Linked DNA regions of Homo sapiens. The protein of the gene in region 2 purifies or fractionates together with the protein of the main gene of each other region. This does not show direct contact. Each region holds a gene or a part of one and is shown on either strand. Other genes may lie near its edges. The genes, in order: ZNF609 and ARID3C.

Region 1 (3,500 bases), on a different chromosome or scaffold from region 2:
TTCTTGGATCAGAGTCCCAGAAATAAGAGATGGCAAATACCTGTCAGGTCATATCTAGTCCATCACTCAGGGGCAAACCTAGGATTTTTCTCTTGTCTCTGTGAGAAATTTTTCCTTCTTTCTTTTGCAGGTGAGAGCTGTCTGATGCCAGACAAGCTCTGAAACTGCCTTCTTTTTATTGTGTTCTCTGGTCATTAGTGTCTGGCCAACTTCTTTGGGGTTTTTTTCTTTTTTAATTCCATTTTTCAGGAATACTTCCTCCCAGCAATATCTCTACCCCTTCTTCAGTCCTTTCTTCTTGATTGTGGGCATCACCTTTGTGGATTCCTTTTGTACCATCAGTTATCTATGCCAGAAGTATCACTTTTCTGACCTTTGCCACAAGTGTCACTGTGGCCTGCTTTTAAGGAGGTACATTTGATGAAAACACAGGACATAAATTCTAGCAGGTGGTAATTAATAAAATACTTTAGAAAACATGTGCCTTAGCCCGGTGCGGTGGCTTACGCCTCTAATCTAAGCACTTTGGGAGGCCGAGACGGGCGGATCATGAGGTCAAGAGATCGAGACCATCCTGGCCAACATGGTGAAATCCTGTCTCTACTAAAAATACAAAAATTAGCTGGGCATGGTGGCGCACGTCTGTAGTCCCAGCTACTCGGGAGGCTGAGGAAGGATGATTGCTTGAATCTGAGAGATGGAGGTTGCAGTGAGTGGAGATCGTGCCACTGCATTCCAGTCTGGCAACAGAGCAAGGCTCTGTCAAAAAGAAAAAAGAAAATATGTGCCTTAAGTAACCCCTGTACTATATGAACAAATGTTGCTTCTTCTGTTCTAACACTTCTCTTTATGTGGATGAAATTTTATTTTTCTGTGTCTTTGTTACAGTTAAGATATTGTCTAAGAGTGTTATGTTTTCTTTACTAGTATGCTTTTTTTTTTTTTCTTTTTTGAGGCAGGGCCTTGCTCTGTCACCAGGCTGGAGCATAGTGACACAATCACGATCACAGCTCACTGCAGGCTCAACCTCCTGAGCTCAAGCAATTCTCCTACCTCAGCCTCCCAAGCAGTTGGAAGTACAGGCAGGCGCCACCACACCCAGCTAATTTTTTTTTCCTCCCTCCCTCCCCTTCCTCTCCTTCCTCTCTTTCCTTCCTTCCTTCCTCCTTTCCTTTCCTTTCCTTTCTTTTCTTTTCTTTTCCTTCCTTCCTTCCTTCATTTTCTCCTCTCTCCTCCTCCTTCTGCTTCTCCTTCCTTAAGACAGGGTCTCACTCTGTTGCCTAGGCTGGAGTGCAATGGTGCAATCACAGCTCATTCCAGCCTCAATGCCACCACACCTGGCTAATTTTTTTGTGTGTTTTTTTTTGTTTCGCTGCATTGCCCAGGCTTGTCTTGAACTCCTGGGCTCAAGCCATCCTCCCACCTTGGCCTCCCAAAGTGCTGGGATTATAGGCATGAGCCACTGTGACCAGCCCAATTTTTAAATTGTTTTTGTAGAGATGGAGTCTCACTATGTTGTGTGCCACTGCACTCCAGTCTGGTTGCCCAGGCTGGTCTCAAATTCCTGGACTCAAGCAGTCCTCCTTCCATGGTTTCCCAAAGTGCTGGGACTACAGACATGAGCCACAATGCCTGGCTAGTATAGCTTTTCAAAGAATAGAGGGGAAAAAATCATAGAATTGAGAGTCATAAAACCCAGATTCTGATCATTACTGTGCCTCTAATTAGCTGTTTGTCCTTGTGCAAGTCATGCCCCTGTTTTCATGTGCCTCATCTGTGAAATGAACACATTAGACAGGATGATCACTGCGGTTCCATTTAGCTGTAGAATATCATGATACCAAGATTGAGAGTCAGGTTGACACTTGTAGTCCTAGCACTTTGGGAGGCTGAGGCAGGAGGATCACTTGAGCCCAGGAGTTGGAGACCAGCCTGGGCAACAGAGAGGCCTCATATCTTAAAAAAAAAAAAAAAAAAAACAACACAATTCAGCCTGGCCAACATGGTGAAACCTTGTCTCTACTAAAAGTACAAAATTAGCCGTGTGTGGTGGCACATGCCTGTAATCCCAGCTACTTGGGAGGCTGAGGCAGGAGAATCGCTTAAACTTGGGAGGTAGAAGTTGCAGTGAGCCGAGATCAAGCCATTGCACTCCAGCCTGGGCAACAAGAGATAAATTCCATTTCAATAAATACGTAAATAATTAGCCAGGTGGTGTGCACTGTGGTCCCAGCTCTTCAGGAAGCAGAGATGGGAGGATCGCTTGAGCCCAGGAGGTCGAGGCTGCAGTGAGCTGTGATCTCACCACTGCAATTCAGCCTTCACTCGCACAGAGCAAGACCCTATTTCCAAAAAAAAAAAAAAAAAAAAAAAAAGATTATGGTGGAAGAACAGGACAAAAATATTTAACATAAGTGAGCATCTTTTTTTTTTTTATTGCTGGTCAAAAATATAGCCGGTATTCAGAAGGGCTAATGAGTGCAATTTCAGTTCCCTGGGGCTTGACTCTCATACTCTTTGATTTGTTTGGAAGGCTGTACTTTTATTAGGCCATCTTTTTTTGGAGGGTTTTGTAGCCTCATTCTGCAGGCTCACCAACTTGCCGCATATATCTTTTTCTAGTGTGCTTAAAACATAGGAGTGGAAATCAGAAAGCTGCAAAAAAGGCTGGCCTGGCTTGGTGGCTCACGCCTGTAATCCTAGCACTTTGGGAGGCCGAGGCGGGTGGATCAGCTTGAGGTCAGGAGTTGAGAAAGCTGCAGAAAAGGAACCTTAGCTTGTGAGAAGGAAGTTGTACCTGGAAGGATTTGCCATCTATCAATAAGAAGTAACTTTGTAAATTCAGTCAAGGATCTAATAATCTATTATATCTGAAATCTGGGAGCTAAATTGGACTGATTATGGAGGTTAGTTGGATATTTTTCCACTTTTGACTAGTCAGTAGAAATTCCACTTTGAATTAACTTCTTGGGACTGAGTACAAGTTGAGTTGCCCACAGTGTTTTGTTCGGAAAATAAAATTATGTTGTTATTTATTTATTTTTGACAGGGTCTTACCCAGCCTTGACCTAGTGGGTTCACCTCAGCCTTCCAAGTAGCTGGGACTACAAAAGTGTGCCACCATGCTTGGTTAATTTTTGTAATTTTTTTTGTAGAGATGATGGTTTGCCATGTTGCTCAGGCTAGTCTTGAGCTCCTAGGCTCAAGCCATCCTCCTGCTTCAGCCTCCCAAAGTGGTGGGATTACAGGTTTGAGCCACTGCACCCAGCCAATTACGTTATTTTTAATGCTGAAAATGCACGTTGATGACATTTGCCGAAGTATGACGAACAAGGGGGTATCTCTGAAATACCCTCCTAAAAGAGACGAGAAATGAAAAGCTGGTTGGTAAGTGTTTCAGGAACTTTCAGATTGAGAGTAATGTTAGGAAGTATTTGCTTTCAAGCAGTTTTTTTTTTCTTTTTGAGATGAAGTCGCTCTGTTGCCCAGGCTGGAGTGCG
Region 2 (3,271 bases):
GAGGTTGCCGTGAGCTGAGATCGCGCCACTGCACTCCAGCCTGGGCGACGGAACGAGACTCCGTCTCACAAAAAAAAAAAAAAAAGAAAAAAAGAAAAAAAAGGACCTTTTCCTGAACTTCAGCCCCTACACTTCAGTAACCCGTACCCCAGAGCTCTCATTTGGCCGCAAACCTCAGGACCCCTAAACCTTAGTGACCCCCAAACCTCAGAAGCCCGTCAGACCTTACTGCTCCCATACCTCAATGCCTCCCCAGACCTCAATCCTCACATTTTAATGGTTGCTATATCTTAGCGCCCACCTAAACCTCAGAGACCCCGAAACCTCTACCATTCTCCCCTCGCACCTTTCTTAATAGGGCTTGGACTCAGCTGAGCGCATGCATGCGCTGGCAGGCCGGAGGTGGAACCCTGGGCTGGGCCAGGGCTGGACTGGGTCGCCGGAGGGGCGGGGCCGGGACCCAAGGCTGGGTCCTGAGCGCCCCGAGGGGGCGGCCCTGCCAAGCCGAAGAGCGGAGTAGCGGTGTAAGCCTGGCGACGGCCCTCGCGCCGATTGCTGTCTATGGCGGCCTGGAGCTCCCCTGGGGAGCTGAGCGCTCGAGTCTCGCACTCGTACGGGTACAGGTACTTCATGTACCTAGGGGCGGACAGCGGGCGGTGAGTGTATGGGAGGCTGCACCCAGCTGGTCAAGTCCCACAGCCGGACGCCCGCCCGGGGACCCTCCCCCCTCCCGCCCCAGGCCGAACCCGTGCCCCCTTCCCTTCCGCTCCCGCCCCTGGCCTCACTGGGTGCGTAGAGTGAAGGCGGCCGAGGTGATGGTGGTGGGTAGGCTGAGGCCGCGCGTGACTTCCCGCCACACTTTGCGGTTGATGACTTCCACCAGGCCGCCCTTGGCGGTCACCAGGCGAAACAGAGCGTACAGGTCGAGCACCTGCTTCGCCATGATGGGCACGCGGTTCACTGGCGTCCCTGGTGGGGAGCGGGCTGCCGTCAGGACACTGAGACGAAGACCCTGTCTGCAGCATCCCCAGGGACTGATACAGGACGGGAGCCCCGGGGAGGGCGGGAAAGAGGGAGACTTGGGCGGAGCCCACAGAACCCCAGGGTCTCTGTTTTAGCAAGAAGGACAGGAGGCTAGAACGGGGGGGGGCAAAGTTCTGTAAAAGGCCAGATGGCTAAATGGTCTCTGTCACAACTACTCAACGCTGTCATTGTAGCCTAAAGGCGGCCATAGAGAATACCTGAAGGAATGGATGCGGCTGTGTTCCAATAATATAGACTCTGAAATTCGAATTTCACCAGTCTGGAGATGTTATTCATCTTTAAATTTTGTCCCCCAACTATTTAAACAAGTAAAAACCATTCTTATCTTGCAGGCAGCTGGGTTTGGCCTGCAAACTTTAGTTTGCTGTCCCCTGGGGTAGACCGCAGGAAGGACTTTCGGACAGTGCTGAAGAGCCGGCCTCCCCTAAGCAGCAGCCCCCGGGTGGCTGCCCAAGGCTGGGGGATGACGGGCGGGAAAAGAATCAACTCCCGCCTCGGCCCGCCGACTCCGCAGCCCGCGCCGCCCCCGCCGGCCAGTCCTGACAAAGGGGCCTGTCTGCGCTGAGCGATGGGCCCCAGTTAATTCCTTACCGATCCCGTCCCCTTCCGCCGCGCCTTTGGACCCGAACAATTAGCTGCGGCCTGATTAATGGGGGAAAATTATCGGCCCCGCGGGACCCCCTCCCCCTGCAGCTGGAGCGGTGGGAGGCAGGGACCGAAGGGAGGCAGGCAATGCTGGGATCGGTTCACACCCGCTACCCCAGTGGAGGGGAGGCCTCGAGGAAGGGCCAGAGAGGGAACACTGGAACCAGAATGGGCCTCCCTGGGAACCAAAAGGACTTAGGTCCCTACTGAGGGTCCCTGGGAAGGTAAGGGACCAGAAAGAGGTGCTGGGGTGAGGGCCGGGAGTGGGAAGTGGGCCAGCAGCTGCACTAAAGGCGGTGGGGGGGCGGGGGGTAACAGGGCAGCCAGTTAATTAGCGGCTTATCAGGCTGCGCTCTGAGTGAGTTAATTAGCTTTGCAGAGAGAGATAATGAGTCAGTGTTCGGTCCCATGAATCTGGGAAAAAGCTGAAGTGATGGACTGCCGCCCACCCTGATGCCCTCCTGGACCCTTCTTGCGTTCTCCTCCAGCTCTGACATTCCTGGAAAGGAATTTCTCCTCCTCCACAGCCTCAACTCACATAGTCCCCAGCCCACCCCTTGGGAAGTCCTTCCTTCAGTCTATTCCTAGTCCTTCCTGCTGTAGAGCACGTGAGGTGTCCCCTGCCTGAATCAAGGGAAAACAGGGAAGACATGGCTGGAGGAAGGACCCTGGACACAGAACCAAGGCATTCTCAGCCCTCTGATTCTGGGACCCTCCCACCCCAGGCCAGGCTCCCATCAGTTCCCCCTCCCACCCTCCCAATTGATCCCAAACTCATTAACCTGCCAGTGGGCTGGCCACTAATTAATCCTGGGGTGGAGGAGGGGGACAGGGTCAGAGGTTAAAGACGCTATCGAGGGCCCAAAGGACAGGTGCTGCCAAGCTCAGGCCTCAGCAGGGAGAACCCAACCGGGTTTCCTCAAACCTGGTAAGGGGGCAATTCCAGGGCCCTTCCCCCACATCATGCCACTCACCCCTCTTTTGCATGAAGCTAAACAGGTCATCCAGAAATTCCTTCCTCTTGGGGTCTGCATCGAGCTCATACAGCTGGGGAAGGATTGGGGTCATTCTACAGCTCTGCTGACTCCCCCTCCCTCCCTTGACCCCAATTCAGGTTGTACCCTGAACAAGGGTCCCTAGCTGAAGGAGTCAGTAGGATCTCAATGTGGACTCCCTGGGATTAGCATTAGGCTCTCTCCGCCTAGGGGCAGGCAGGGGTGCCTTTTTCTAGTACATACAGAGACTGGTACTGGTAGTGGTACCCTGGGCCATTCAAACCACCCATCTGGGGAGTAAGGGAAGAGAGGAACAGGATGGAGCTTGGAGGCTCAGCCTGCCCTCTGGGGCTCAGTCTTCCCCCACCCTCATGGGAAATTTAGAGCCCCAGGAAGGAAGCTAGGCTGGGGTTGTATACCAGACTGAGGAGACAAACATATATCTGATGCTCTGATTCATTCATGCAAGGACTTCATGGTGTTCACATCCCTGTATGCCAGGGCTGGGGGTGACTGAAGGGCAGAGATGCTCCTAACCCACCCCTCAGGCAGGGTGATGCTCAGAAGCTCCTGGGTTGACACCCAGG

Evidence for each region.
Region 1: the proteins of ARID3C (region 2) and ZNF609 purify together in Homo sapiens (affinity purification with mass spectrometry; one large-scale study listed by BioGRID and IntAct). This does not show direct contact.

Annotation. Positions count from the first base shown.
Region 1 is NC_000015.10:64,467,078-64,470,577, forward strand, and holds part of ZNF609 (zinc finger protein 609), read left to right. Parts: intron 1-3,500. UniProt on the Homo sapiens protein: Transcription factor, which activates RAG1, and possibly RAG2, transcription. Through the regulation of RAG1/2 expression, may regulate thymocyte maturation.
Region 2 is NC_000009.12:34,623,079-34,626,349, forward strand, and holds part of ARID3C (AT-rich interactive domain-containing protein 3C), read right to left. Parts: intron 2,737-3,271; coding exon 2,664-2,736; intron 970-2,663; coding exon 786-969; intron 637-785; coding exon 347-636; intron 1-346. UniProt on the Homo sapiens protein: Transcription factor involved in monocyte-to-macrophage differentiation.